7 linked regions of the Homo sapiens genome follow. The protein of the gene in region 2 purifies or fractionates together with the protein of the main gene of each other region. This does not show direct contact. Each region holds a gene or a part of one and is shown on either strand. Other genes may lie near its edges.

The links.
Region 1: the proteins of PNKD (region 2) and SETX purify together in Homo sapiens (affinity purification with mass spectrometry; 2 studies listed by BioGRID and IntAct, with this or other methods). This does not show direct contact.
Region 3: the proteins of PNKD (region 2) and KIFBP purify together in Homo sapiens (affinity purification with mass spectrometry; 2 studies listed by BioGRID and IntAct, with this or other methods). This does not show direct contact.
Region 4: the proteins of PNKD (region 2) and DICER1 purify together in Homo sapiens (affinity purification with mass spectrometry; 2 studies listed by BioGRID and IntAct, with this or other methods). This does not show direct contact.
Region 5: the proteins of PNKD (region 2) and DCUN1D5 purify together in Homo sapiens (affinity purification with mass spectrometry; 2 studies listed by BioGRID and IntAct, with this or other methods). This does not show direct contact.
Region 6: the proteins of PNKD (region 2) and PPFIBP1 purify together in Homo sapiens (affinity purification with mass spectrometry; 2 studies listed by BioGRID and IntAct, with this or other methods). This does not show direct contact.
Region 7: the proteins of PNKD (region 2) and HEATR3 purify together in Homo sapiens (affinity purification with mass spectrometry; 2 studies listed by BioGRID and IntAct, with this or other methods). This does not show direct contact.

What each region holds. Positions count from the first base shown.
Region 1 is NC_000009.12:132,263,997-132,268,374, forward strand, and holds part of SETX (probable helicase senataxin), read right to left. Parts: intron 990-4,378; coding exon 243-989; 3' UTR 1-242. UniProt on the Homo sapiens protein: Probable RNA/DNA helicase involved in diverse aspects of RNA metabolism and genomic integrity.
Region 2 is NC_000002.12:218,342,992-218,347,644, forward strand, and holds the end of PNKD (probable thioesterase PNKD isoform 1 precursor), read left to right. Parts: intron 1-508; coding exon 509-595; intron 596-1,463; coding exon 1,464-1,579; intron 1,580-1,816; coding exon 1,817-1,990; 3' UTR 1,991-3,802; downstream 3,803-4,653. UniProt on the Homo sapiens protein: Probable thioesterase that may play a role in cellular detoxification processes; it likely acts on a yet-unknown alpha-hydroxythioester substrate.
Region 3 is NC_000010.11:69,009,303-69,012,802, forward strand, and holds part of KIFBP (KIF-binding protein), read left to right. Parts: intron 1-1,597; coding exon 1,598-1,713; intron 1,714-3,500. UniProt on the Homo sapiens protein: Activator of KIF1B plus-end-directed microtubule motor activity. Required for organization of axonal microtubules, and axonal outgrowth and maintenance during peripheral and central nervous system development.
Region 4 is NC_000014.9:95,098,530-95,102,029, reverse strand, and holds part of DICER1 (endoribonuclease Dicer), read left to right. Parts: intron 1-2,094; coding exon 2,095-2,250; intron 2,251-3,500. UniProt on the Homo sapiens protein: Double-stranded RNA (dsRNA) endoribonuclease playing a central role in short dsRNA-mediated post-transcriptional gene silencing.
Region 5 is NC_000011.10:103,064,277-103,068,654, reverse strand, and holds part of DCUN1D5 (DCN1-like protein 5), read left to right. Parts: intron 1-2,087; coding exon 2,088-2,196; intron 2,197-2,281; coding exon 2,282-2,386; intron 2,387-4,277; coding exon 4,278-4,378. UniProt on the Homo sapiens protein: Contributes to the neddylation of all cullins by transferring NEDD8 from N-terminally acetylated NEDD8-conjugating E2s enzyme to different cullin C-terminal domain-RBX complexes which is necessary for the activation of cullin-RING E3 ubiquitin ligases (CRLs).
Region 6 is NC_000012.12:27,680,722-27,685,099, forward strand, and holds part of PPFIBP1 (liprin-beta-1), read left to right. Parts: intron 1-824; coding exon 825-975; intron 976-1,665; coding exon 1,666-1,777; intron 1,778-1,893; coding exon 1,894-1,982; intron 1,983-4,378. UniProt on the Homo sapiens protein: May regulate the disassembly of focal adhesions. Did not bind receptor-like tyrosine phosphatases type 2A.
Region 7 is NC_000016.10:50,103,970-50,108,650, forward strand, and holds the end of HEATR3 (HEAT repeat-containing protein 3), read left to right. Parts: intron 1-969; coding exon 970-1,092; 3' UTR 1,093-3,303; downstream 3,304-4,681. UniProt on the Homo sapiens protein: Plays a role in ribosome biogenesis and in nuclear import of the 60S ribosomal protein L5/large ribosomal subunit protein uL18 (RPL5). Required for proper erythrocyte maturation.

The sequences.
Region 1 (4,378 bases), on a different chromosome or scaffold from region 2:
AACATTTCCAGTCTCTGACTTCAAGGACATTATTACGGATACACAATGCCCTCTGAAAGCTTTTGCAAATGACAGAAAATACTGAAGATGACCAGAGGCTCAGGTGTTAAGGATGCATTTTCCATGTTTTCCAACAGCACACAAACTCCTTACAAAAAACAAGCTTATCTAGATGGTCCCACGAGCTGGTCATCTTCAGTTTACAATATGCTGTGGCTGCTGGCCCATGTCACTGGGCTTTCCTATAAAAGCTTTCTTTTCTTGGAACTGCTGTCCTCCTGCTCCAGTGTCCTCTTGTCCCACCTAGAGTTCCTCCTGGTGTGATGGGTCTCGGAACCACACTTCTCCTGCTCCCCTTCACTGAAAGCCCTGGCCTCTCTCCTGTGACAGAGCTCCTCTTCCGGGTCATCACATTTGCTCTGACACGTGGAAGCCTCGGGACTGGCAGCTGGAGGTTCGCCCCGCACGGGAGGTTTGTGGCTGCTCAGAGCAGCCACTACAGCAGCGGGCTGCTGTATATGGCTCAGGTCCTGGTGAACGACAGGGAAGCCCGGCTCGCCCGTAGGAGGTGTTGCTCCAGGATGCTGGGGGCTCGAGGGTTGTGGATCCCAAAGGAATATTCCTCCTTTGACCTCAATGCCCATCCTCTTCAGCAGTCGTGGGTCCTGAAGTTGGTCATGAACAGGAGGTCTTTCAGGGTCCTTTGAAGTAACAGTAAGAGTAATTTCCTTGGAGTCAGAGGGTGTGTGGTATAGAGAAGCAGCAACAGATGTCTTGGCAAATCCACTGTCTAGCTTGCTGCTGGGCAAACCACCCTGGGGTCTGGACCCCTCTGGGGCTATGGTAGGAGGGTGAGTGAGACTTCTCTGCAGCACAGGCTTGAGTTTCAGAATCTTCACTGCATCATGTCTATAGTTTTTGTCACAGGTCTTAATAATGGCACCACGCTTCTGAGCATCCTGAATCAGCTGATTCCAATGCTGGTTTTCCTTGAAACAATGAGAAGGGAGAAATAATTACACCCCAAAGAGACACTGCTTGGGAAGCATAGAGTTCCAGCTTTCATTTCTGAACAAATAATACATATTATTGTATGAACATATTCTCAAGATTCATTACTCGTCAGACAAGGATGAAAGGAAAAAATAAATTCAAATAAAAAATGATAAAGTCCCATTCCTAAAAATAAGACCTGGTCACAACCTATAATGGAGAACTTCAACTTTTGTTTTTTTTTTTTTTTTTTTTGAGACAGAGACTCACTCTGTTGCCAGGCTGGAGTGCAGTGGCGCGATCTTGGCTCACTGCAACCTCCACCTCCCGGGTTCACGCCATTCTCCTGCCTCAACCTCCCGAGTAGCTGGGACTACAGGCACCCGCCACCACGCCCGGCTAATTTTTTGTATTTTTAGTAGAGACGGGGTTTCATCATGTTAGCCAAGATGGTCTCGATCTCCTGACCTCATGATCCGCCCGCCTCAGCTCCCAAAGTGCTGGGATTACAGGCAGGAGCCACCGTGCCTGGCCGAACTTCAGCCATTTTTATCAGTGCATTCAACTGCAACGCAGGTCTGCACTAGTCACTAGGAGCATCATGTTGCTATTTATATTTCAATAAATTAAAATAAAAAATTCTGTTCCTAAATTGCATCAGCCACATTTCAAGTACACAGCGGTCACACACGACTAATGGCTATTGTACTGAGCAGTGCAGACACAAAACATTTCCGTTATCACAGAAAGGTCCTTTGGACATTGGTGATCTAGAGTACTGCCTACACCTCTTGGCAGGGCTAACGTTCTGAAACAGGAAGGTCTGGTTTCAGAAAGCAAACTTCTGAGTGCATGTGACTATTCTAGAAAAAGGCCCAAGGCTTTCACTGGATTTCTAAAGGCCTCCCAAACCCCGAATGGCTAAAACATCTTCATCCACCGAGATCTCAAGATATCATCTCACTTTCTGCCTGTTTCCTACAGGAGCTTAAGATATTAAATCCCATCGGGAAAGTTGCCAAACACATGCACCTCTCCTCTCTTCCCGAGTTTCTTCAGAGGAGGCTGCTGCTTTACAACCACTAGAATTCGGGTCTCTTTAGAAAGAAGAAAGAAAAGAAGAAAAAGGATAGCTACCCTCTCATGGGGGCTCCTGTACTGTTCATAAAGGTATGTTAGGGAAGCAGTGAGGCTGCACAGTATTTACTTGCTGTGTGACCTTGGTCAAGTCACTTGACCTCTCTGAGCCTGTTTCCTCATCTGTAAAATAGGAGTAATATTTTATTTAATGGATTCTAAAGTGCACGTTGCTTTCACATTTTAGCATTTCTGACCTTGGGGAGCCTCTTGGCCATGTACCTATCCTTGGAAATTACATGATGAGGCAATTATAACCCTTAGACTTTTAGTCAATAAACCATTTAAAAATAATGCCTGAAAACCTTCTACAGACATTTTCTGATAAGACAAGATAACACCAGCATTAAAACTTATGCACTGGGCCAGGTGCAGTGGCTCATGCCTGTAATCCTAACACTTTGGGAGGCTGAGGCGGGCGGATCACCTGAGGTCAGAGGTTCAAGACGAGCCTGGGCAACATGGTGAAACCCCGTCTCTACTAAAAATACAAAAATTAGCCAAGTGTAGTGGTGCACAGCTATAATCCCAGGTACTTGAGATGCTAAGGCATGAGAATCGCCTGAACCCAGGAGGCGGACGTTGCAGTGAGCTGAGATTGTGCCACTGCACTCCAGCCTGGGCAACAAGGTGAGGCTCTGTCTCAAAAAAAAACCCCCAAAAAAACCTTATACACTGGAGATAAAGGGTTCTAAGAAATCCTGGAGACAATGGTGTAACTCTTAGCAAATGCTAAATTGCCAACCTTATTATTGCACTTGGGATGAATGACAACACTGATGACTATGGATTGGGAAGTGATTCATTCGTGCTAAATTCTGAAAGTGAAATATTTTTAGGAATATCTTAACCTATTATTTTACTTGTATTTTCTATGTATGGATAAGAATATGGTAAAAATCTGTCTAAAGTCTTAAGAGTCCTTTCAATAAATATGAAAGTTCTAAGTGAAAATAAGGCACTGTGTCATAGTCTAATAATGGTACATAAAATAGTGGTGTATATTATAATGAATGGTTTCTTGAATTTGATGAACTATGGTAATAAGCTGACTTCACAGTAGTTTTTCAAGGTTTGGAGAAAGTCATGTGACCAGAATAAAATGCTTGGCCCGGTGGCTGGCATACTGAAGACAGGTCTGTGGAGGGAGCGCCAGGCTCTGGGGGCTCAGTTCTCTTTCTCACTCAGATCTCTAGAGATCCTTAGCCTGTGGCTCAAACACATATGTGAAGCAGATGGCCTTGCAATTTTTGCTAAGTTCACTACACCTAAACTTGGTGTTTAATCCATTCCTAAGATCACAGAAACAGTTCTGAGCAGGCACTATTAGCCTTGGTTTCTCAGAGGAAATCAAACGCTTTAATGATTGATCCCATTCCCATAAGGGGAACTAGGCTAAAAACTTAGAAACAAAAGCAAATGAATCCCCAAAACAACAAAGAAAAAGCCCAAGGACAAAAAAAGTTAGGAAGCCCAGCTGACATGTCGGGAAGTTTCAGATTCTCGTCTGTCTCTTTTTGTAGCACTGCCTTCCTAGAGTGAAGACAATGTCGGTGCCATTAGCTGGAGGTCAGTGGTCTGCACAGTTGTGCAAGTGTGACCCAGGGGCTCCCAAACACTGTCTAAACGGAATGTGAAAAAGGGTTACAGAATAACCTTGCAAACCCTACTTCCCATGTCCTCCTTGGGCTGCCCTGCCTCCTGCACCCCACCCTTCACAATCATGATGCGCCTCATCCATCCAGAGTGCACTGCCAAGACACATCAACACCATGAGGTGCCAACTTAAGGGAGGATGAAAAACAGTAGTGCCCACAAAGCCTCCTTTAATCAAGGCATCACTAAAAGATGTATCTCTAGCAACATTTCATTTACTTGTCAGGTTTAAACATGATCAAAATCTGTGATATTAAATATATTTGTCTTGTTTTGCTCAACTGTACAAATAAGTGTTAACAGGCTATTCAATTGATAAGAGATCACGTTTTAACACTCAGATGCTTATGGTCACAGGAAAAGCAATTTTTAAAAATCCAAACCTACATTTTGAGATAACTATAGATTTACAGGAAGTTGCAAGGAAAGTACTGAGAGGTTGCATGCACCCTTCACATGGGTTCCCCAAATAGTGATAAAAATCAACTTTTTAGGCCGAGGTGGGATGACTTTAGCCCAGGAGTTTGAGACCAGCCTGGACAACATGGTAAGACCCTTTCTCTACTAAAAGTACAAAAATTAGGTACATGCG
Region 2 (4,653 bases):
TGCGGGACAGAATGGGAGAATGTCTGTAGCTGAGTAAAGCCCTGCAGGGAATTAGTTTCCCCTGGGTGGAGACTGGTTCTCTGATACAGTGACTGGCAGGACTAGGTTATGAAAAGTTAAGAACAGCTAGGTGAGTGGGTGGGTGAGGATCACAAGTCCCAGGCTGCATGAAATCCCAAAGGGCAGCCTAGGCGAAGAAGTGTTCCGTGGGAAAGAGCAGCCCTGCGTCTACCAAGCCTGGGGCCTGCAGCCCGAAGATTCCACAGCCCCTCCCTTCAGGTGTCACTGTGTGCAACGGAGGCCTCGGATGGGCTTGGTCAGGGGGTGACCAGTTGGGCCCAGTTCCCAGTGAGGAGGGAATAGATGCCTGGGGTGGGTCTGGAAAGTGCACAGTCAGGGCTGACGGCCAGCCAGAGCATTACAAGCTGGTTCCCACCTGTCTGGGTGTGCCTTATGCCATATTGTGTTATCCTGGCACCTTGTGACATACCCTCCAACCCCCACCCAGGGCGGACCTTTGAGGGCAATGCAGAGACCATGCTGAGCTCACTGGACACTGTGCTGGGGCTAGGGGATGACACCCTTCTGTGGCCTGGTGAGACACCCCCTTACTACTCCCCATCCTCCAGCCCCACGCTCAGCCTGGGACAAGGGCCTTCCCACCCCCTCACTCCCCTAGAAAGCAGGCCAGCCCAGTTCCTGGCCCAGAAGCGACACAGCTCCACCTCTAGGGGTAGGGACAGAGTTCTGGCCTCCCTTCTTCCTGGAGTGCTGGCTCCGTACCACCTCTGCTTCTCACACTACCTTCCCCTGCCAGTCAGCCTTCAGCCTCTTGGGAGCCTTGCAGGCCCCAGGGCATTCCAGAGAGATGTCTAATTGTTCATAGCCTTAGCCCAGAACAGAAAATAGCCTTTGCTTATCTGGGGAGAAGTCAGTAAATCCACTCTGCATGTAACCATTGCCTTGTGGTGCATAAAAACATTCACAGATATCTGTTAATCCTCAGAACATATATTCATTCATTCATTCATTCATCAAGTACTTTATGTGCACCTAACACATACCAGGCTCTGTTCCAGGCACCAGGAACACAGCAGGTACATCTGTGTCTGGTGGCATCATTGTTCTCTCCACTTGCCAAATGAGAAAATTGTGCCTCAGAGAGGGGCCATGACTAGACCGAGGTCACATGCTAGGCTTGGTGGAGTCAGGGCTAGATGCAGGCCTGCCAGCTCCAGGTCTAGTGGTTTTTTCCCCTGGAACTATTGCCACCTTTTCACCCATGGCTGACTTGTGCCCACAGTTAGAGAAGCAGCTCCTGGCAGTTGGGGTTTTCCTGGAAGTGCTGACCTCATCCCTAGTTGTCAGGTGCCCATCAGCCTGGACCTGGGGCAGGGAAGACTGTTCTGACTGTACCACCAATCTCTCTCTGCTCTGTGTCTCACCCTCATGGCTGTCGGTAGGTCATGAGTATGCAGAGGAGAACCTGGGCTTTGCAGGTGTGGTGGAGCCCGAGAACCTGGCCCGGGAGAGGAAGATGCAGTGGGTGCAGCGGCAGCGGCTGGAGCGCAAGGGCACGGTGAGGGACTCGGGGTCCAGGAGGAGCTGTGTGGGCAGGCACTCAGCCCCAACGGGAACCCATCCATGCTGACCCCAGGCCTGCGAGCACCTCCCCAAAACTCTGACCTCTTTGGCCCATGGGCCCTCAAGTCAGAACTCCTGAACTCCAGGATGGGGCAGGGGTCGGGTCAGGCTTCTCTGTCTTGGGTCCATTTCCCAGCTTCTCTCCACCAAACCTGGTTCCTCTCACCCACAGTGCCCATCTACCCTGGGAGAGGAGCGCTCCTACAACCCGTTCCTGAGAACCCACTGCCTGGCGCTACAGGAGGCTCTGGGGCCGGGGCCGGGCCCCACTGGGGATGATGACTACTCCCGGGCCCAGCTCCTGGAAGAGCTCCGCCGGCTGAAGGATATGCACAAGAGCAAGTGATGCCCCCAGCGCCCCCAGCCCAGCCCACTCCCCGCATGGGGAGGCCGCCACCACCAACACCTCATCATCCTTCTCATCGCTAACACCACCACCTCCATCGGCACCCAAGCGGGCATCATCCCCCCACACTGCTCAGGGGAGGGGAGGGATCAGGCGATGAGACTGTGAGGCCAAAAGAAGGGGGCCTGTTGGAGGCTGGGAACCCCGCAGCGCGAGGCTGCCTCATCAACGGCAAGAGGAAAGGAGGGGTCTCGGGACATCTCCAGACCCTACCAACTGGGAGGGTCCCCTCCTCCTTCCCTACTCCTGGGACGGCAGCAAGGACATGGGGGCTGCTGTTAGCTTCTCCGTCAGGAGGCCTCATCTCACTGTAGCCCTGGAACCCAGGGTCCATCTTGCCCTTCCCCCATCCATGGTTGGGAAAGAAGCTCAGCCCCTCACAGTGGCCTCAAGTGTGATGCCTTACAAAAGCACCACTCAGATGGGCAGCTGGACTCTGGTGTCCTGAGACTCTGCCCTCTTCCCACAGCCTCCCTGCCCCACCCATCCCTGCAAAGCCATTTTTCAGACAGAGCCATTCCTAAGAACACTGAAGGGCTGGAATGCTGGCTGGCCACTCTCTGCCTCAGTGGCCTCCCTACAGCCTGGAAGAAGGAGGGTCCTGATTGCCAAGGAAACCTCCTCATTGGGCTAAGGAGACACTGGAGTCTGGAGTGTGGAGCCCCACAGTCTTGCAGGTCACATGCTCTCCTTGCACATCTGGCCTGGTTGTACCCACTGGCCTCTGCCTCTGCCCTGGGCCAAAAGGGCCCCTCCTTGCCAGGGGAGAGACAGCCACGGTCCTCTTTGGCCGATGCTGTATTCTCATTTTGGCCCTTGTTCTTAGGCCCGTCTGCCCGCCTTCCTCCATCTAACCTTTCCTGTTTTATCCGCAGCCCTTTTCTTCTTTGAGTTAGTAAAGATTTATTCTGTAACCTGACACTCATCTGGCCCTTTGCAGTTTGCCAGCCATATTCCCATGTGATTTCCCACTGGATCCAGGCCCCCATCCGGCTGGCAGGAGGGGGCTCTGACGTGCAGGTTGGAAATCAGAAGTCTGTGAGAGCGCGGGAGTGCATGGCAGCTCTGGGTCCCAGACCTGGCCCGACCCCTCTGCTTCACCTCCAGCTCTGCTGCTCCTCTACTCTTGGGTCGAGATCCCTTTGGAGCCACAGCGAGGAACCCTGTGGTCCTCAGGCAGGTGTACCTTGAGTCAGCCAGGAGCCCTCTTTTCCTGTGTCAAAGCCTGCCCTCGGGCTCTGCTCACCTCTGGTGACCCTCCAAGATGCCCCTGCCCTCAGTTTCCCCTCATGATCTGGCCTCTGCCCCCTTCTCTAGCCACAGCCTCTAGTACACTTTAGCAATACCACCAGACTAGTTAGAGTTCCCCACTCACCAAGCAAGACATGCAGTTTCATGCCTCTGTGCCTTCGCTCATGCTGTTTCTTCCGACTGGAATGCCTTCCCCTGCTCCTCCTGCCTTGTCTGCCTGGCAAGTTCATCTCTCACGATCCCCTCAAAGGCCCCCTCCTCCAGGAAGGCAACCCCTGTGCCCCTCCCCTCCAGGCTACCTCTGCACTTTGTCAATGCTTCTCTTGTGGCACTTATCACACTGTATTTTACTTGTTTACATGTTTGTCTCCCCTTCTAGACTGTGAATCCTTAAGGGCATGGACTGTATCTTATGCATCTCTGTATTTCTGCGCCTAGCACGGTGCCTAGCACACAGTAGGCGCTCAATAAATGTTGAATGAATGAATGATTTAATCAAGACTTGATCACCCAACAGCTTGTCTTTGTTGCTACATGAGTGAAAACAGCAGAGAACTTTCTCACAGTTTTCCCATCTCAGTTCCAGGCCTGCTAACTTGCAGTTAGGCACTTCAAGAGTTTTGATCAGAAATGATGCCCAAAGGCTGGGCGCAGTGGCTCACACCTATAATCCCAGCTCTTTAGGAGGCTGAGGCGGGTGGATCACAAGGTCAGGAGTTCGAGACCAGTCTGGCCAACATAGTGAAACCTCATCTGTACTACAAATACAAAAAATTAGCCAGACATAGTGGCAGGAGCCTATAATCCCAGCTACTCAGGAGGCTGAGGCAGGAGAATCACGTGAACCCAGGAGGCGGAGGTTGCAGTGAGCCGAGATCGCACCACTGCACTCCAGCCTGGGCGACAGAATGAGACTCTGTCTCAAAAAAAAAAAAAATTTTTTTAAAAAGAGAGAGAGAAATGATGCCTAAAATATGTTCTTCCCAAGGCCCATGGGCATTTGTTCAGGGTTTACGATTTGCTTATCTCAATGTTTCCCAAAGCTTGAGATACACAAGTGTACCACTGGCCAAAGTAGGGTGGCTGTACATGGCCACAGCACAGCAATCAATTGGACTTCAAGGACACGGTCTTGGCACTAGTCTGTCTTTAATGTCTTTGGAAAGAAAGACCCGGGATCCAGGTTCATACTTTAGTTGGGAAATGTCTGTAGTTAAGCTTTAACAACATCGTTTTGTTTTCATTATATTTATATTTGGGTTCAATATTTATTTTTGACAAGTGACACTGGTTTTCAGTTCATAAAAATGATTAAAGGGCCGGGCGTGGTGGCTCACGCCTGTAATCCCAGC
Region 3 (3,500 bases), on a different chromosome or scaffold from region 2:
ATCAACATAGTGAGACCCCATCTCTATGTTTTTAAAGAAATTAAAAAAAAAAAAGTAACATTGATACAATTCTTTTATCTACACTGCATATTTCTATTTCATCAGTTGTTGCCATAATATTCCTTCTAGCATTTGTTTGCCAGTACTGGATTATACAGTTCAAGATTGCATAATGCATTCAGTTGTCACATCTCTTCAGGCATTTTTCGTCTGGAATTGTTCCTCAGCCTTTCTTTCCCTTTCATCACTTAATATTAAGAATATAGGCCAGTTATTTCATAGAATTACTGCCAGCTGGGGTTTGTGTGATGTTTCCTTATGCCATGATTCAGATGATATATTTTTGGTTGGAATACTACATGCATAAGCGATGTTGCCAAATACCCATCTTTTTAAGTATAGTGTTTCCTTTAGTCTTAGAAAATCACAGTTAACATGTGTCTTTGAGTCATTTAACAGGTTTTTTAATAAGTTCATCATTTTCTTTAAAAATAGTTTATTTTTAAAAATAGTTTGATTCTATTGCTCACTGTTGAACAGTTTCCAACCTTCTTACGATGTTTTAGATTTTGAAACATCATGTCTTCCTTACAAATGGACATTCTAATTGTGGATCTGAAAAATGCAGAGACTCTTAAGAGCTAAAGGAATGTACATTATCAAAGTAAATAGTTGCTTTCTCCCCTAATATATTAACTACATTAATTATAGATTAGTTGAAGTCTAAGAGGCACTTGTCTCAAAAAATGAATAAAAACTAAATTGCTGAGATATTATTTAATAATTCACTTTATTTAAAGTAATATCGTGAGATATTATTTTGTTTTTACTCTTCATAATAGCTGAAAAAATGACAGTGACCAGTGTTTTCAAAATGTTCTTATTGAGCATTCTCATATATTGTTGGTTGGCATATTTGTTGAAAATAATTTGGCTGTATGTTGTGAATTATTTAAAATTGTGTAAACTCTTTTACTCAGTAAATTCCACTTCTAGGAATCTGCCCTAAGGAAGAAATCCAAAATCCAGACAGATTTTTGCACAATTATACTCATGTTTCAAGTTTAAAAAAAATGTGTGTATGTGTATAAACTTTACAAAGCTTTGTGTTGACAGCTGACTTTGTAGATTACAGCAAGAAAGCTGCTCTGCTATGTATGACACTCTGACCCAGAAGCAGGTCATCTGAATAGTTTAGCACCAGGTTCTCCACAACCATCTGTTGTGTGACATAGACGTTTTTGTGATAGTAAAGAATTGGAAACAACAAATTCCAGGTTAGAATTAGAAGAATGGTTAAATAATAGAATATCTATTTAATTGTATATAATGGTGTACTTAAAAATGAAGCTAAGAGTTGATAATGATATGAGTAAAGTGTTTGTGGTGCGAGAAAGAAATATGCAAAAATAATAGTGAGTGCTTCTGGGTAGTAGGATTTGGGGGGGGATCTTTCTTCCCTTTTCCCCAAGCCCCCTGCTTCAGTAAAGATCTGTTACTTTTATAGTCAGGAAAAAGTGATATTAAAAAAATTACAGTACCCAATGAAAATTACAGTTGTGACCATTAACTTAAACAAATCACATGTATATTTTAGCTCCTGAAGCTGAAGGAGAAGTGCCAGAGCTTTATCATCAAAGAAAGGGGGAAATAGCAAGGTGCTGGATCAAATACTGTTTGACTCTCATGCAGAATGCCCAACTCTCCATGCAGGTAATGCAGTCAGAAGCTGCCTTTTTCTTTCTTAAATGAGGAAATTGTAAGTAAAAACTCATAGTGGGGATTGTGCTCATTGGGGTCACATTGTGTTTAATATGAAAGGTGTGTAGAATGTTTTCGTAAATATTTCTTTCTTGGTTTTAAATCGTATTCTTCGAATTGCTTGAATCCGGGAGGCAGAGGCTGCGTGAGCCGAGATTGGACCACTGCACTCCAGCCTGGGCAACAGAGCGAGACTCCATCTCTAAATAAATAAATAAATAAAATAAATCTTACTCATCATTCAAGGCCTATCTTAAATACTACCTCTTCCTTGAAGACTTTTCTTTGGTTAGAATATAAGCTTCTTGAGAGCTGGGAACGATATCATATTCTTTTTTTTTTTTTTTTTAGACAGGCTCTCGCTCTGTTTCCCAGGCTGGAGTGTGGTGGCGTGATCATGGGTCACTGCAACCTTGGTCTCCCCGGCTCATGCAGTCCTCCCACCTCATCCTTGGAGTACAGGCGTGTGCCACCATATCCAGTTAATTTTTAAATTATTTTGTAGAGACTGGCTCTCACTGTGTTGCCAAGGCTGGTCTTGAACTCCTGGGCTCAAGTGATCTTCCTGCCTTGGCCTCCCAAAGTGCTGGGATTACAGGTGTGAGCCACTGTGCCTAATCTTTTTTTTTTTTTTTTTTTTTTTTTTTTTGAGACGGAGTTTTGCTCTGTCGCCCGTGCTGGAGTGCAGTGGTGTGATCGCAGCTGCAACCTCTGCTTCCTGGGTTCAAAGGATTCTCCTGCCTCAGCCTCCTGAGTAGCTGGGATTACAGGTGCCTGCCACCATGCCTGGCTAATTTTTGTCTTTTTAGTGTAGATGGGGTTTCACCATTTTGGCCAAGCTGGTCTCGAACTCCTGACCTCAAGTGATCCATCCATCTCGGCCTCCCAAAGTGCTGGGATTACAGGTGTGAGCAACCACACCTGGCCAAGCCCTTACTAATCTTTATATACTTCCCAGTGTTATCTTACACACAGCATGGACTTGATAAAATCTAAAAGGGTAGACTTTTAAGAAATAGCTCATGTAATAGTTCAAAAATAGAAGCAGAACTGATGGCAGTGAAGAGCATGGACTTGAAATACACTAGGTAGGTATGAACTCCAGCTCTGCCGCTTCGTAGCTATGTCTTTGTGGCAATTTACTTAATATATTTTTGCCTCTATTTCCTCACAAGTAAGTTGGAGATAATAGTACTTAATACTGTTGTTATGGGAGTTAAGTCAGTATATATTAAGGCCTCGGAAAAGTGCCTGAGACATACTAAGTCCTTAATAAATGTTAACTACCATCATCATTATTAATTTATGCCCAATCCTAGTTTCTAAGCACTAGGGAGGATAATAAAATTAATCATTTAGATGCAATATACTAAGTGTAGATACATAGGAAGATTTCCTGGGGGATTCATTGTGCTTTTATTTTTTTATATTGTGTATTAAAGTATGATAATTTTTTTTTTTTACATGGGACTCTGCTTGATAAAAGTATAATAATCTTTAGTGGTTGTATTAGTCTGTTCTCACACTGCTATAAAGAACTACTTGAGGCCAGGTACAGCGCCTCATGCCTATAATCCCAGCACTTTGGGAGGCCAAGGTGGGTGGATCACTTGAGCCCATGAGTTTGAGACCAGCCTAGACAACATGTTGAAACCCTGTCTCTACCAAAAATACAAAAAATTAGCCAGGCATGGTGGTGTGCACCTATAGTCCCAGCTACTGGGGAGGCTGAGGCAGGA
Region 4 (3,500 bases), on a different chromosome or scaffold from region 2:
CCCCATTTTATAGGTGAGAATAGGCTGGAGAAGTTAGCTTGCCCAAGGTCACTTGGCAAGTAAGTGGCAGAGCTTGGGTCGAATCCAGACAGCCTGGCTTTGGAGACCTTCCCCTTCCCCATCACACTAACTGCTCCGGATAGAACCATCACACCAGGCAGCACACCAAGCATTTCCCAAGTGCTCACTCATTCACTCTTCTCTAAGCCTCTGGGAAAGAGACAACACATCCCTGTTTTGCAGATGAGGGGACTCACACTTAGAGAGTCGAATGGGCTCCTGTCAGGTCACCTAACTGTTCATCTGGGAGAGTCAGGAGTGTGTCCAAGGCCTCCCAGGATGATCTTGAGGTGGACTGGAGGCGCAGTCATAACAACCACGTAAACTGGCAACTTGGGGGCAGTGGCAGTAGCAGGGAGGTAGGGAGAAATGTGGGAAGTCCATGTTAGAGTTGAGATTTTAGACCTCATGGAATATGAAGTGGAAATGTTCAGATAATTGAGGCTGTAGGATTCAGATACGGTTTTGTAGAGTAGTCGCCATACGGAAGCTCTGAGAATGGATGAGATTTCCAAGAGGTGGTTGCAGGAAGAAAGTATCAGAGGCTTGGACAAGTGTGGCATAGGCAATAGGATAGGATACTCTGTTAGACAAGACAGAGGTGACTTTCTATTACAAAACTCGTCCATTTGTCTGCTCAGAAACCTTCTACTCCTTATTTCTGCAGAAAGAATGATCACTCCCTCAGCCTGCTGTTCAGGCCCTTTCAGCCCTGATGCGTTTTGGATCCTAAGCAGGTGGAAGCCCCTTGCAGCTCATTGGACAGACTCCACGCTCAGACCCCCAGCCTTGGGGCCCTTGCTCTGTCCTTCCTTCTGCAGAGGGCTTGCCTCCATCTCTACCTGTCCAGAATTTTGCCCCATATTTGAGACCTTACGTAGCTCTTTCTTCATCCTGCCCACCATTTCTGTCAACTTGGAATGTGATTTCCCTCCCATGAGTCCACGTTGTACTTTATCCTCTTCTTGGCGCTTGTGATGCTTTGTTCTCTTAGCTTGGAAAGGGAAGCTAGCATTTATTTCAGCCTGCTACGTTTCAGGCAGAGAGGGAGAGTACTTTTGGCTATAGTGGTCACACGTACCCTCCTTTTCCCTGCTAGCCTGTGTGTCACGAGGACTGCCCCTCTGTCCTGCTGCCATCGTTCCCTCAGGGTTGCCCAATCGAGTGCCTCTCATATGGGGGGTGTCTATTAAACAATAGTTGAGTTACATGGGAAGAGGGCTAATGAAGTACTTAATAATAAGGAACCGAGCTTTATGAAAATGAAAATGGGATTGACAATTCTAGACCCTAGTTTCCAAGTACTAACTTGACAGAAATGCAATGATGTGAGAAATTAAGAAGGAGATAGAGGCATTAGGAAAAACAGACCGGAGTAGAGGGTAAGATAGTAAAGCTGTTCCATTAATGTGAATAAACAGAAACCTTTTGGTTCATTTTTTTTAAGTTGAATAAAAGTGTCTTGAAATGGCTGTAAAACAAAGGAATAATATTTGAGAGAGCATTACAGTTGAAATCCCGTTTGTGGCTTCGATTCTAGGAATATAACATTGTTTCAGTTTTGTTCGGTGCCAGTTTTCACTTTGCAGCTAGAGCTGATGGCATCCTCCCCCCATTTCATTGAAAATATTGTGACATCTTGACTTTTTCTATGGGTTCTTTTCTACTTTGGTAATTCCAGTTAGCAGTTTGCATTTTATATCATCAGGTTGTATTTTCAAGGCTTTGATATTGTCTGAAGTGTTTCTTCTCAGTCATTCATAAGGAGTATGCATAGTTATATACATTATTTTTTCTGCTCTGCATCTTATATTCAGAAATATTTACACCAAAAAAGCATAGAATATGTGGGAATTTAATATTCTTTTTATAACATGAATGGGTAGAAAAACTGTAGAGCCCTTATAATTAATTGATGACATATAATTAATTGATTAATTTTAAGAACATTTAACTGAGGATATGTTAATATGCCTTGAATGAATTCCAGCAGTGATCATTTATGGATAAGTATCCTAATATTTTCTGCTAAAGGTCAGCAACTGTAATCTGTATCGCCTTGGAAAAAAGAAGGGACTACCCAGCCGCATGGTGGTGTCAATATTTGATCCCCCTGTGAATTGGCTTCCTCCTGGTTATGTAGTAAATCAAGACAAAAGCAACACAGATAAATGGGAAAAAGATGAAATGGTAAGTTTGTGTGTGTGTGTGTGTGTGTGTGTGTGTGTGTGTGTGTGTAACTGGAGGGATTTACTTTTCGGTGAGCCAAATAATTTGTTTTATTAATTTTTTGTTTCATTTTCTTGGTATGTTTATAATAGAGTAGATATTTGATATATTTAATTAATTCCTTTAATTACACTGTCTTTTCACTGAATTCAGAAATAGTATTATAATTTTGATGGAGGCAAATTTCTATTTTTATTATTTCTTTTCCAAAGGCATAAGAGTATGTGATGTTTTGACTTTGAGTTTTGCTCTTCTTTAAAAAAATTTCACTTTGCTGTTATTACAATTTATCCTAGATCCTTAGCTCTGTTCAGTGAAATGACTTTTCAGTGACCTGTGATCTCCAGTCTGTCTGTGAAATAATTAATTTCAGTAAAATCTTGCTTTTGTAGCTCAGGGTTTTCCCAGTCAGGACTCCTGTGAACTTAAAAAAAAAAAATCATCCATAAAGATTGTTATTTTCTGGAAATAATTTAAATCTTGCCAGTGACTTAAGAAGACTCCAAATATCAGCAACAGCCACTTCATTTTGTCTTGTCTTGAAGGCCACCAGAGGGCACTTGGGAGGGCCTCCAAACTGCAGGAACCAGCGCAGTGGTGGTTGACTGGGAGAGTTCTAGTGCCTCTTCCGAAGTTAAAGGCAATGCTTCAGACAGTTTCATTTCTTGGAGATTTATTTTGCATTAAAAATAAATTGGCTCATTGTTACTTCATTTTTACCTCAGGCCAACAATGATAATACCGTTTTTTTCTTTCAAAGGTTATATTTTTAAATATCCATTTTCTCCATGTCTTCTTTGTGATGCATGTATCCTATATATCTGCCTTTAAGTATTTCCAGGTAGCATGTTCAGTGACACTATTTGGATTTTTACCTATTTATTGAGGATGTTTTTAACTCATGTAGTATTTGTCTTATTACAGAATTAGAACTTATTTGGAAAAGCATTAAGGGAATATTTTAATGCAAGTTAGGTCCGAACAATTATTTGTTATTAATTTAGAAATATGTAGAACCTTAGAGGAAAATGTATAGATTTTCAACTTTAGAAATGGTATGGTATTTCTATGAATAACATTCCAGTAACAGTCATCCTCCTTTGTTAATACCGTTTCATAATGTTTTTGGCTCTTTTTAAAAACTTGTAGCATGAAGGTGACATTGGCATGTCATTGATTTTTTTTTTAAGATACAACACAAAGTTCAATTT
Region 5 (4,378 bases), on a different chromosome or scaffold from region 2:
TCTTTGTGTTCATAAGTTCACATCATTTAGCTCCCACGTATAAGTGAGTACATGTGATATTTGGTTTTCCAGCATTAGCTTGCTAAGGATAATGACCTCTAGCACCATCCATGTTCCCGCAAAATGTATGATCGTGTTCTTTTTTTATGGCTGCTTAGTATTCCATAGTGTACATATACCATGGTGTATATGTATTTTCTTTGTCCAGTCCATCACTGGTGGGCATTTAGGTTGATTCCATGTCTTTGCTATTGTGAATAGTGCTGCAATGAACATTCACCTGCATATCTTTATGGTAGGATGATTTATATTCCTCTGGGTATATATCCAATAATGGGATTGCTGGATCGAATGATAGTTCTACAAACAATACTTATCAAAACTTGTGGTTGCAGCTAAAGTTGTATTAAGAGGGAAATTATAGCCTTAAATACTATATTAAATTAATTAAATTCTGGTAAGATTGGTCAAGAAAAACAACAAAAAAGGGATGAAGATAATGCTAATGCAAATTAGAAAATGTTATAAATTTTAATCATATTTAAATAAACTTATATGTAAAATAATCAGTTATGAGAAAAGTATGGGACCAAAACATTCAAAAAGAAATAGAAAATCTGAATGGCCCTATGGCCATTAAAAATGTTGGTTTATTAGTTAAAAGTTTTCCTTCCCTCAATACTCACCTGAGTTTGGACAGATGCTAATTCCAGGGTTACATAAGCTTTTTCAAAAAACGGGGGGGAAAAGTAGCAATTCTCTTTTCATTTTCTGAGTCTTATGTACTACAATCTTGTTAAAAAAACTAGCAAGGAGAGTAAGAATGAAACTTAAAAGCTAGTCTCACTTAGGAACCTAGCAAAACAACCCCAAAATCCAGCAATGTATAAAACAGATAACATGACCAAATTTGACTTATTCTAGAAATGCAAGGTTTAATTAATATTAGAAAATTGTCCAAAATATTTACACATTAATGAAATTATGTTACTACACATTATAGGCCTTTGCATTATTGATTTAGTATAGTCTTAGTTAAATCTGAGAATGCCAGGTGGCTGGAGAGCATGTTGAATAACTAAAATTCAGTTTTGAGTGGAATACTGTGGACCACAGTAGATGGCACAATTAATTTGATTAAAGGGAGTCAGATGGTCTCTCAGAGGTGGCAAAATGTGAGTTAGGTCTTGATGAATAATATTTTTATCAGCATGTTTGAGATTTCAAGTGGAAATAATGGGTGCTGAAGTATGGCAGTGGCATTTGGGAATGGTAAGTGATATAATTAGAGCATGGTAAGGTTATCAGGAAGTGGCAGGAGATGAAACTAGAGATTTGTGCCAAATTGTGAAAGGCCTTGACTGCCTTGCTTCTTGCTAAACAGTGGAATTTATCAACCCACTGAGACAAAGTCAGTTAAGATTTTTGAGCCTTCCATATATTTAGCTGCTTATATTTAATGTCTTGTCTTTAAAAATAACACGTATGACTTGTTGTTTGCATGCTTTTGCATATATAACTTATTTGAAGTTAGGTGCTTCTACTGATTGACTTTGACTTTTTGTTCACAAAAATATAGGGATCTTGATTTATGACTGGACCACTTAATGTATTAATTTGCACTGTGTTATATCCTAAACTTTTAAAACTACTCATGACTAATGTCTTTCACCAAACTGTTACCTACGAACTTTCTAAAGAAATGTGTGACAAAGGCGTGATTAGTTTCATTTGCTCTGCCATTTTTAGCTGTATATGTGATAAAACATGTTTTAATACATCTCTTTTTAACTTCGATTTTATTTGGAATTTTTGAATGAGCTGTTTGTTTGTTTTTAAGCAAAGTAATTGGAGTGAACTTTCTTTGATTCCCAGGTTTTCTTTTTTCCCCTTTTTTCTTTTTTTATTGCATTGGTAGATGCAGGGCAAGAAATTTATTACTCTAAATTTGTGACTCAGAATTTTAAAACTAAATTAACTTCATAAATGCGCTCACTTTTTTCTTAATGCATTACGTCTAACCCCCAGTGATACTTTTATTTGATTTTCTTGATTATGTAATTTGTTTGATATTTCTTTTATTTAAGGTGTGACTGCACAGAAAAGTTACAAAACAAATTTGACTTTTTGCGCTCACAGTTGAATGATATTTCGTCATTTAAGAATATCTACAGATATGCCTTTGATTTTGCAAGGGTAGGTGCAATTTTCTTGTTTTGTTGTTTTAATAGCTTTTCATCTTGAGACCACACTTAGGAAAACTTTTTCACTTATATTTTAGGATAAAGATCAGAGAAGCCTTGATATTGATACTGCTAAATCTATGTTAGCTCTTCTGCTTGGGAGGACATGGCCACTGTTTTCAGTATTTTACCAGTACCTGGAGGTACGTATGTTTTTTCGAATTTTGAAAATATTATTTTAAAACTTAATCTGAAAGTTATACTTTTGAGGAACAAGTAGATTTTTAATAGTATGCTTTAAAAAAACTTTAGAGAAAAAATTCTAAAATATGTACATATCAGTTGCTATTTTTAGATAGAAGTTCATGTTTATTAATATATTTTGTACCTAAGATATTTTCAATCCTACCCCCCCAGTCCCCCAAATAAAAGAAACCTCCAAGAAATACATTGTATCACAGACATTTGTCTTGCAGAATTAGTTTCTCGGGGTTTTCATAAGAGAGTTAATGCTAGTACACAAACCTTTAAGCTTCTAAATCTGATTTTCTTCTTTTGTTACACAGGGTCTTAAGCTGAAATGTACATAAGAGAACCAATTTAGTAATAAAACTTTCCTTTTCTACTTAGGCTCAATCTAAAGAAACAGAATAAAGCTATTAATATTTTATGGCCACAAATATGAGAATGGCTATAATAGTATACTTAAATATGCTGGTTACTAAAAAAATGTAAGCTGAAATGATGACGTGTTCTTTTAGAAGGTTTATCATAGCAACTACTATAGGCAGTGATTCTAAGAAGATGCTATTCTTTTTTTCCATTGCTTTGTCTAGTTTTTTTTTTTTAAATCTGTTTTTGTGCCTTTGTAATTCTAGGGTTATTGGTATAGTTCTCACCATATCTTGAATACAGATGCTTTTTCCTTTGGAAATAATTTCTCATAAAGCACATTGCTTATAGCTGCTTCCCTTTTCCCAGAGTAGTAAAAGTTGTGATACAAGACAGTGATATCAGCTGGGCGTGGTGGCACACGCCTGTAATCCCAGCACGTTGGGAGGCCAAGGCAGGCAGATCACTTGAGGCCAGGAGTTCGAGACCAGCCTGGCCAACATGGTGAATCCCCGTCTCTACTAAAAATACACACAAAAAATTAGCTGGGTGTGGTGGTTTGTGCCTGTAGTCCCAGCTACTCGGGAGGCTGAGGCACGAGAATTGCTTGAACCAGGGAGGTGGAGGTTGCAGTAAGCTGAGATTGCACCACTACACTCCAGCCTGGGTGACAGAACGAGACTCTGTCTCAGAAAAAAAAAAAAAGAGACAATGATATGAAAAGGTCTTACATGAATGAGTTTTACGCATGATTCAATCTGTAAGTCCTATAAATTATTTTTGATGGATGGTATCTATTTTCTTCCTATTAGTAGTTTTGGGCAAAAATAAATTTAACTGAATGTAAAAATATTCAGCTCTATGGGGAGCTGAGAAGAACTAAATATTTTCAGACACTTGTTATGTGCAGGTTGTTTGGCATATATTTTTAAAAATCTTTATAATACCATTTTGAATTAAATTCTATCCCCATTTAACAAATGAGGAGGTGGTTTCTATTCTTAAGTAACTTTCCCAAAATCACTCAATTAAGTGGCAAGGGTGGGATTTAAATCGAAGCCTATACTCTTTCACTTGTTTCCAAAGATGCCAAACTCAAAATGTGGCTAAACAGTAAATCTTGAGCAAAGAAATGATTTACTAGGAAGCAGCACAATAGAACATACTGGATGTAGGAAATGTTATATATCTTGATCTCATTGGTGGTAACACAAGTATATACATATGAAAAAGTTAGTTTTATCCTTACTGTTAGTACTCAGTGCTCTTATTATTCCTCAAAAATGAAAAAAAAAGTAAAAAATAGATTATGTTAATATGTAAATGCCCATGAGGAATCTCTTAGAAACACAAATAATTAAAAAAATAGTAAATGTTTTAGAAAAAACCAAATCACAAAAACAGTTAAAACTTAGTTTACTAAATTGAGTAAATGATGTTTGTTTAAATATTTAAATACAAATATTTAAATCATTTTTGCAGCAATCAAAGTATCGTGTTATGAACAAAGATCAATGGTACAATGTATTAGAATTCAGCAGAACAGTCCATGCTGATCTTAGTAACTATGATGAAGATGGTGC
Region 6 (4,378 bases), on a different chromosome or scaffold from region 2:
AAAGTTTAGGGCTGGCTTAGAACTACTACATTGACTCACTGTGCATAAGAGGGTGGGGTTGGCAAACATAAAGTACAAGACATTGATACCAAATCTTTTAACAGTATAATAGACTGACTAGAAACCCTTTACATATAGCCCCTCCCATACAGGTGGAACACTGGACATAGGTTACATCAAGGAGGAAACTCTCTTTGGCCTTCTTCAAATACCAAACAGTTTCATTTGCCATATGTTGTCTTTGAACACAGTAGAGCTCCTTGTACTATTTAAAAAAAACCATTCATCTTCCCCTCCGCACCCTGCCCCCACCCCGGAACAAGAACACTATTTGTGTATCTAAGTAAAAGAAAACAGGAATTTTGCTTTGATTGTTTCCTACACTCAGTGACAACATATTGCCCTCTTCTCATTGGTTACCATATGGAAAGAAACCATAATTCTGCTAAAGTTAGTTCAAATTAGACTTAAGTTTCTTTCAGTCCAACTGAGTTTCCTGTTTGGGAATCCAATCTTCAAACAACATTGGTTAAAACTGATACAGTGACTTGTGTTTGTCCAATTTGGTCTTTTTCTGTAGCACTTGTTCTTGCTCTATCACGTTAAATCTTTTGTGGTTTCATTTGAAATGAAGACAGTGGTCTTAGAAGATAACTTTCAACCAGTTGTTCCTCCAATGTATACTAAAAATTAAGCTTTTCATGGTCAAATGTGTATCACCAGGGAATTTCCATGTCTATTGAATGTATAGTTGTTTAAAACTAATGATAAGCCACAGGATTGGCTTTGGATTATTTTTCATGCAATTACTCATTTTCCTGTAGTGACTTGGATATGCCATTTGCCAAGTGGACCAAGGAGCAGGTTTGCAATTGGCTGATGGAACAGGGCTTGGGCTCGTACCTGAATTCTGGCAAGCACTGGATTGCATCTGGCCAAACGCTTTTGCAGGCTTCTCAACAAGATCTAGAGAAGGTGACTGCTTCTCTGTTTTGTTCACACAATGGATACTGAGAAGAAAACAGTATGAATGTAGGGTTGTTTTATAGTCCAGAAAGGGCCATGAGTGAAGCCAGTAAAAACTCTGTAAACAAAAGTTTGGGTTTTCAATTGCTTCATGCTTCTTTTTTCTGGTGGTCTTGGGAGGACCTGGTCTTGATGATTCCTTATGGAACACTTAAGCCATTGGGCATTTTAATGAAAAAGAATTACATAAGCATAATTCAGTTCATATTTCTCGAAATCATTGTTTGGCTTTATCATTGGCCTGTTTTTCTCAGTGTAAGATATGCAATTAACTTCACTTTGCAAAAGAAAAAAAAAAAGCACCCTACAATTTGTGTCTAATTATTTAACATTTCTTCCAAATTATTTAATATTTTGTACAAAATAAGAGTCAAATTCTTTTTATGCATGCTACAGTTCCTAGCTTACAAAGAAAATGAGTCACTAGGGAATGCCTAACACACCCCTAAGATAATTGTGGTGGTCTTGGCTTTTCAGGGACCTTTTGTTCAACAACACTTTACTAGCCCAAGTTGGGATTGTAATTCAGTATTGAATTGGGTCTTTAATGCTAGCTTCATTTTGGAGAAATTTGCATCCTTTGCCAGTGGCACCCAGCCTATACAGATAGAATTATAAAGTCAATGTTTATTGTTTCAGGAACTTGGAATCAAGCATTCACTTCATCGAAAGAAACTCCAGCTAGCACTCCAAGCCCTGGGATCTGAAGAAGAAACCAATCATGGGAAGCTGGATTTCAACTGGGTCACTAGTAAGAAGTTTTTATTCTAACAAAATGAAATAATTATATACATAGTTGCTTTTTCTTTTTAATCACAAGAACAGATGTTTTGTGGCATGGTAGCAACACTGGCCTCTCTCTTTTAGGATGGTTGGATGACATTGGCCTCCCTCAATATAAGACCCAGTTTGATGAAGGACGGGTTGATGGTCGAATGCTACATTACATGACTGTTGTAAGTGACTCACTCCTGGGGTTTGGGGGAGGAAAACTTTTTTTCTCTGAAAAACACAGGAATTGAGTAAGCCAAACACAGTGTTTTCAGTGATTCCACCAGAGTTTGAAGCTGTTGCTTGAACTTGAGGAGAGTGGCAGGCATATTTCCCATGAGGCTGAAGTTGTAGCATTTGGTGATTGTGATTGAACAGGCTTGGGATAATTTGAAACCCCAATGTAAGCTAAGTGAAGCCTAATTTAAACTAAGCTCTCCAGAAGGTTGATTTTATATGTAATACATTCAACAAAGTAAACACTGAAGTGTACACTTTGAATGGGTACATTTTATGGTATGCAAATTATATCTCATAAAGATTTTTTTTGTATTATTTCTTTTGAGATGGAGTCTCGCTCTGTCACCCAGGCTGGAGTGCAATGACGTGATCTCAGCTCACTGTAACCTCTACCTCCCAGGTTCAAGCCATTCTCCTGCCTCAGCCTCCCGAGTAGCTGGGATTACAGGCTCACGCCACCATACCCAGCTAATTTTTTTGTATTTTTAGTAGAGACGGAGTTTCGCCATGTTGGCCAGCTGGTCTCAAACTCCTGACCTCAAGCGACCTGCCTGCCTCGGCCTCCCAAAGTGCTGGAATTATAGGCATGAGTCAACACGCCCAGCCTAAAGATATTTTTTAAATAGAATGTAGAATTTTTAAGCCCAAGCTATCTCTAAGTTATGGGTTTCTATGTGCAATGACCATTTGGAAGAGGCCACCCTTTTGACCTGACATCTTCAAGGACTTGTCTTCTCCTTTCCACTCTGGACAACTGTTACCTGAAACCCTATCACCCGTCTCACTTCAGCCTAGTTCTGCTACAGCAGGAGTTACTGGGGTTAAAGGAGGAGGGAGGAAGGCTAGACTTCTACTCTGGTTCCTTCATTATTGTACATTTCTAGCCCTCCAGCCAATGTGTAGGACTATTCCCTGCTTTACAGCAGTGAGAAAGATGGATTCCAGGAGAACTTTGTTTTAGGTTCCATACCACTATTAATGTTCTACTTAAAATTCTCTTTATTTATTTATTTTTATTTTTATTTTTATTTTATTTTATTTTATTTTGAGACGGAGTCTCGCTCTGTCGCCCAGGCTGGAGTGCAGTGGTGCGATCTCGGCTCACTGCAACCTCCCTCTCCTGGGTTCATGCCATTCTCCTGCCTCAGCCTCCCAAGTAGCTGGGACTACAGGCACCTGCCACCATGCCTGGCTAATTTTTTGTATTTTTAATAGAGACGGGGTTTCACCATGTTAGCCAGGATGGTCTCGATCTCCTGACCTCGTTATCCACCCACCTTGGCCTCCCAAAGTGCTGGGATTACAGGCGTGAGCCACCGAGCCTGGCCTTGTTCTACTTAAAATTCTTTTATTTATTTATTTATTTTGGAGACAGAGTCTCACTCTGCTGCCCAGGCTGGAGCGCAGTGGCACAATCTTGGCTCATGGCAACCTCCACCTCCCAGGTTCAAGTGATTCTCCTGCCTCAGCCACCCGAGTAGCTGGGATTACAGGTGCACACCACTGCTCCTGGCTAATTTTTGTGTTTTTGGTGGAGATGGAGTTTCGCCATGTTGGCCAGGCTGGTCTGGAACTTCTGACCTCAGGAGATCCACCTGCCTCGGCCTCCCAAAGTGCTGGGATTACAGGCGTGAGCCACTGTGCCCGGCCTAAAATTCTTTTATTTAAACAGCTTTTTGTGAAGTAGGCTATAGACCTAACTACCCTAAGTATAATCTTTTTCAAGTAAGTAGCAAGTTTTAAACAGCCAACTTAAGTAGGCATTTCTCAATGTCAAAAAAATTTGGAGTTCAGTTCATGGATTTTTCTTCTCTGTCATTGAACCCAAGCCCCTTACCTTGATGAGCACATCACATAAACCTGCGTGAAATAATACTAATATGTGTAGTATGTTGCACATTTGCTATGTGTCAAACATCCTTTTAAGCATTTTGCTCATATTAATACTGGATTCTCAATAACCCTTTTAGTTAATATTACTAATATTATTATAGTGTGTATAATATATATTAAAAAGTTTTTAAAACTTTTTATTTTAAGATAATTTTAGATTTACAGAGGAGTTGCCAAAGCTAGAATTCTGTATACCTTTCACTCAGCTTCCTCTAACGTTAACATCTTACGTAATCATGATTACATTCATCAAAATTAAGAAATTAACGTAGATGTTAATACAATCAACTAAACTGAAGACTATTCACATTTCACCAGTTTTTCCAGTAAGGTCCTCCTTCTGTTCCAGGATCTAATCTAGGACACTACATTAAAACACACATTTTGTGACTTACGACTTCTGGGGTCAAATTTTCCAGGGTCATTTACTCTTTTATAGCCATTTCAC
Region 7 (4,681 bases), on a different chromosome or scaffold from region 2:
AGTGAGCTCAGTGGATTGCAGCACTGCACTCCAGCCTAGGCGATGAAGCAAGACCCATCTCTATTAAAAACAAAAAACAAGCAAACAAACAAAACCAGCGCTGGGCATGGTGGCTCACACCAGTAATCCCAGCACTATGGAAGGCCAAGGTGGTAGGATCACTTGAGCCCACGAGTTCAAGACCAGCCTGGGCAACATAGTGAGACCCCACCTCTACTAAAAATTTAAAAAAATTACTCCAGCATGGTAGTGCGCTGCTTGTAGTCCTAGCTACTGTGGTGGCAGAGGCAGGAGGATCACTTGCGTCCGGGAGGTCGAGGCTGCAGTGACCCATGACTGCAGCACGGCTCTCTGGCCTGGGCGACAGAGAGAGACCCTGTTCCAAAAACAAAAAAACCACAACACTACAGACTAACCTCTGGCTAACAAAGGAATTTTTTTTTTAAGGTGGGGTCTCACTGTGTTGCCCAGGCTAGTCTTGAACTCCTGGACTCAAGCAAACCTCCTGCCTCGGCCTCCCAAACTGCTGGGATTACAGGCATGAGTATGCACCCAGCCTAACAAAGGAATTTCATTAAGGCTTTATACCTTTGAGAGAAGAAAAACAATTAAGTATTATTACCATAGCAATGCATACTAACTAGGAAAATCAATCTGAACAGCAGACCTTTCAGAGGTTAGGGGTTATTTTCCCAATTCATGGTTTACATAATTCCTTTCTATAGTTTATATAACTCCTACCACCTGCCATTCAGTCACCTTTGTAACTATCATTTTTAATAATGCACATTCTCAGTTTATTCTTTACTTACCGAGTTCCATTTACCTTGGAAGTAAAAACATTTTTTCCAAATTCTTACAGCTATCTGCTTCAGCAAATGGTTAAATACACCCTAAATTAAATACTTTATTTAAATGAATTAATCATATCTACCAAGTCATATATGATTTTTTGTTTTTTGTTTGCAGATACGTAAAGAAGGGAGAGGTAACTATAGCACAGATCAGCTGTGTGTTCTTGACAATGTGAAAATGAATTTGCGAAGATTTATTGCTTATCAAGAAACTGTTGAGAAAAGACTGACTTCTTAAACAATCCAAAAAAGAAACCAGTTCTTCCCCCAAAGTATTCAATGCTTAGAATACTAAAAGGTTTTCTTTGAATGTATATGTTTCTGAAAGTCATTTTTTAATGATTACATTCTGTACATTCTGTAAAAACTTCAAAACCTGGCCAGGCATGGTGGCTCACGCCTATAATCCCAGCACCTTGGGAGACCGAGGCGGGTGGATCACTTGAGGTCAGGAGTTTGAGGCCAGCCTGGCCAACATGGTGAAACCGCATGCATAAGCATGGTGGCACATGCCTGTGATCCCAGCTACTCGGGAGGCTGAGGGAGGAGAGTCGGTTGAACCTGGGAGACAGAGGTTGCAGTGAGCTGAGATCACGCTACTGCACTCCAGCCTGGGTGACAGAGGGAGACCCTGTCTCCAAAAAAAAAAAAAAAAAAAAACTTCAAAACCTGTCAGAAACTCTGTTGCTGGTTTTTTTGTGTGTGTGTTTTGTTTGTTTGTTTTGTTTTGTTGTTTTTTTCTTTTTTGAGATGGAGTCTCACTGCTGCCCAGGCTGTATTACAGTGCTGCGATCTTGGCTTACTGCAACCTCTGCCATTCCAGGTTCAAGCGATTCTCATGCCTCAGCCTCCTGAGTAGCTGGAATTACAGGCACCCACCACCACACCTTGTTTTTGTTTTTGGTTTTTTGGTTTGTTTTTTTTTTTCAGTAGAGACGGGTTTCACCGTGTTGGCCAGGCTGGTCTCAAATTCCTGACCTCAAGTGATCCGCCTGCCCTGGCCTCCCAAAGTGCTGGGATTACAGGCATGAGCCACCGTGCCTGGCCAGAAACTCTTTTTTAAGTGATGAGATCTGTGTGGCATTTCTAGCGCTCTCTAAATTATGTCTCTGGCATATTTTAATCACTGGAAACTCAAAGAGTGGAAGAGTGGAAGTGCGAAGGAATCTCAGGTAGCTCTTAACTAATTCGCCAGCAGTGAAGAAACTTCAACCAATCATGTTTTCCTTGAATTTTGCAAAGAAAGAAAATCCAAAGCATTGCTTGGATGTTCTTTTAAGGCATTTTATATCAGTTGAACCTTAAACTGAAATATGAAGACAAGCTTTATAAACTAGTTTTTTGATATGAAGTATATCAATTATGTTTGCCTTTTGTGAAGAAGTAAATGAGTTGAATTTCTATTTCACTTACTAGATTATACTAATGAGCTAATGGGGTCATTGCCATCCTCCCTACTCATGACTTTGATGAGTTATTGCTGTAACATCACTTCTTGATTTAATTTGATATGGAATCAGAATTGGGAGAAGGTATTTTTAAATAAACAACTTTTTAATGGAAAGTTTTGTGTCTTACAAAATCTTTTTTAAGATACCAAATAAAGGGTTATTAGTAGAAAATGAGATGATACTATTCGTGGATATTTGTTTGCTAATGCATATTGCTTGGAATATATGTGAGACATTAAAAAAATGACAGCACGACTTTGCAGCATTACCTCTCAGTGTCTTCGAAGTACTAGGTGACAGCTGGGGCTCGAGGGAGTTTCCCTGTGCATCATTGTCTCGGCTGGGCCTCTGAACCGGCTTCATTGTCCATCCGTTTGCCTGATGAGAAGGGAAATTTGAAAATTTCTGTACAGTTGATCTCAGTTGCCCTGACAAAAGGCCCAATCCCCAGTACAGGACTTAATTTTAATTCACTGCTTCCACAGCAGCACAAAATGAGCTAGTAGTGTTAGATTTCATCTGCACTGTGATGTATTTTACAGTTTTCACCTATATGATATAGACTGTTGGGAAACCAAGATTGTTTCCCAGCCCTAAGAGTTCCTAGCCCATGGCACCAAGTAAAATAACCCAAATTGTGTATATGGTGGGAAAACAGAAATGTATACCATATACAACACCTCGCTTTATTATGGTCCTTGCTCATGAATTTTAAGGTATATATGTATGTTTAGTGATCATTTCAGCTAAATGATTGGCCCAAGCATGTCTCCTTGGAGAACGACTCTTCCAAAAAAGAAAGTATTAGAGTTCTCTCTGCCTCAATTATTTATAAAATATAATTATTTTCAAGGAGAAAAAAGTTCCTCATTCTGTTTATTCTTCCCCACAGTTTCTGACCTATAAACAATATCCAGGATATTTAGCACAGGACCTAGTATATAGTCGACTCTTCATAAATATTTGTTGAGTAAATAAATGCTGGTGATTTTCTCGTTGTTTTGTGTGTGATTTTCTGTTTTACTAAGCAAGCTCTAAAGCAGCTGTTGAATGCAGAATCATCCTTAAACACGGTAGAAGATGAGATGACACTGAAGATGTGCCATCCTAAAAATCTCTTAGATTCTGAGGCATGGATAATTGGGTCTGGATTTCTCCCATTCAACTTTACCACTCTAACGACACAAAAGAAGGGAAAACAACTCATAAATACAGCATACAGTTTTAACTATTTACATAATAACTCAATAGAGCATGCAAGTATTATTCATGGCACAGGATAATGGAGAGCTTTTTCTGTATGACCATAGGGGAAAAAAAGTCTGCTTTAAAATATACTTATTTGAAAATCACCCAGAATAGCCCGTTAGAAATACACACTGGAGGCCAAGCATTTTGGGAGGTCGAGGTGGGCAGATCACTTAAGGTGAGGAATTTGAGACCAGCCTGGCCAACATAGTGAAATCCCATCTCTACAAAAATACAAAAACTAGCTGGGTGTGGTAGCATGCACCTGCAATCCCAGCTACTTGGGAGGCTGAGGCAGGAGAAACTCAAACCTGGGAGGTGGAGGTTGCAGTGAGCCAAGATTCCACCACTGCACTCCAGCCTGGGCAACAGAGCAAGACTCCACCTCAAAAAAAAAATAATTAGCCGGGTGTGATGGCCCATACCTGTAATCCCAGCTACTCAGGAGGCTGAGGCATGAGAATCACTTGGATCCAGGAGGTGAAGGTTGCAATAAGCCAAGATTGCACCAGTGCACTTTAGCCTGGGCAACAGAGTGAGCTCTGTTAAAAAAAAGAAAGAAATATACACTGTTCAGGCATAGTGGCTCACACCTGTAATCCCAGCACTTCGGGAGTCCAAGACGGGTGAATCACTTGAGCTCTGGAGTTTGAGACCAGCCTGGGCAACATAGGGAAGCTTTGTCTCTGCTAAACATAAAAAAAATTAGCTGAGCTTGGTGGCGCACACCTGTAGTTTCAGCTACTTGGGAGGCTAAGGCAGGAGGATGGCTTGAGCCTAGGAGATGGAGGCTGTAGTGAATCATGATTCCATCCTAAGCAACAGTGCAAAACCTTTCTTAAAAAAAAAAAAAAAGGTTGGGGGCTGGGCGCAGTAGCTCACACTTGTAATCCCAGCACTTTAGAAGGCCAAGATGGGCAGATCACTAGAGCCCAGGAGTTCGAGACCAGCCTGGCCAACATGGCAAAACCCTGTCTCTACTAAAAATACAAAAATTAGCCGGATGTGGTGGCATGCCCCTGTAGTCCCAGCTACTGGGAAGCTGAGGCAGGACAATCGCTTGAACATGGGAGGCGGAAGTTGCAGTGAACTCAGATCACGCCACTGCACTCCAGTCTGGGCGGTAAG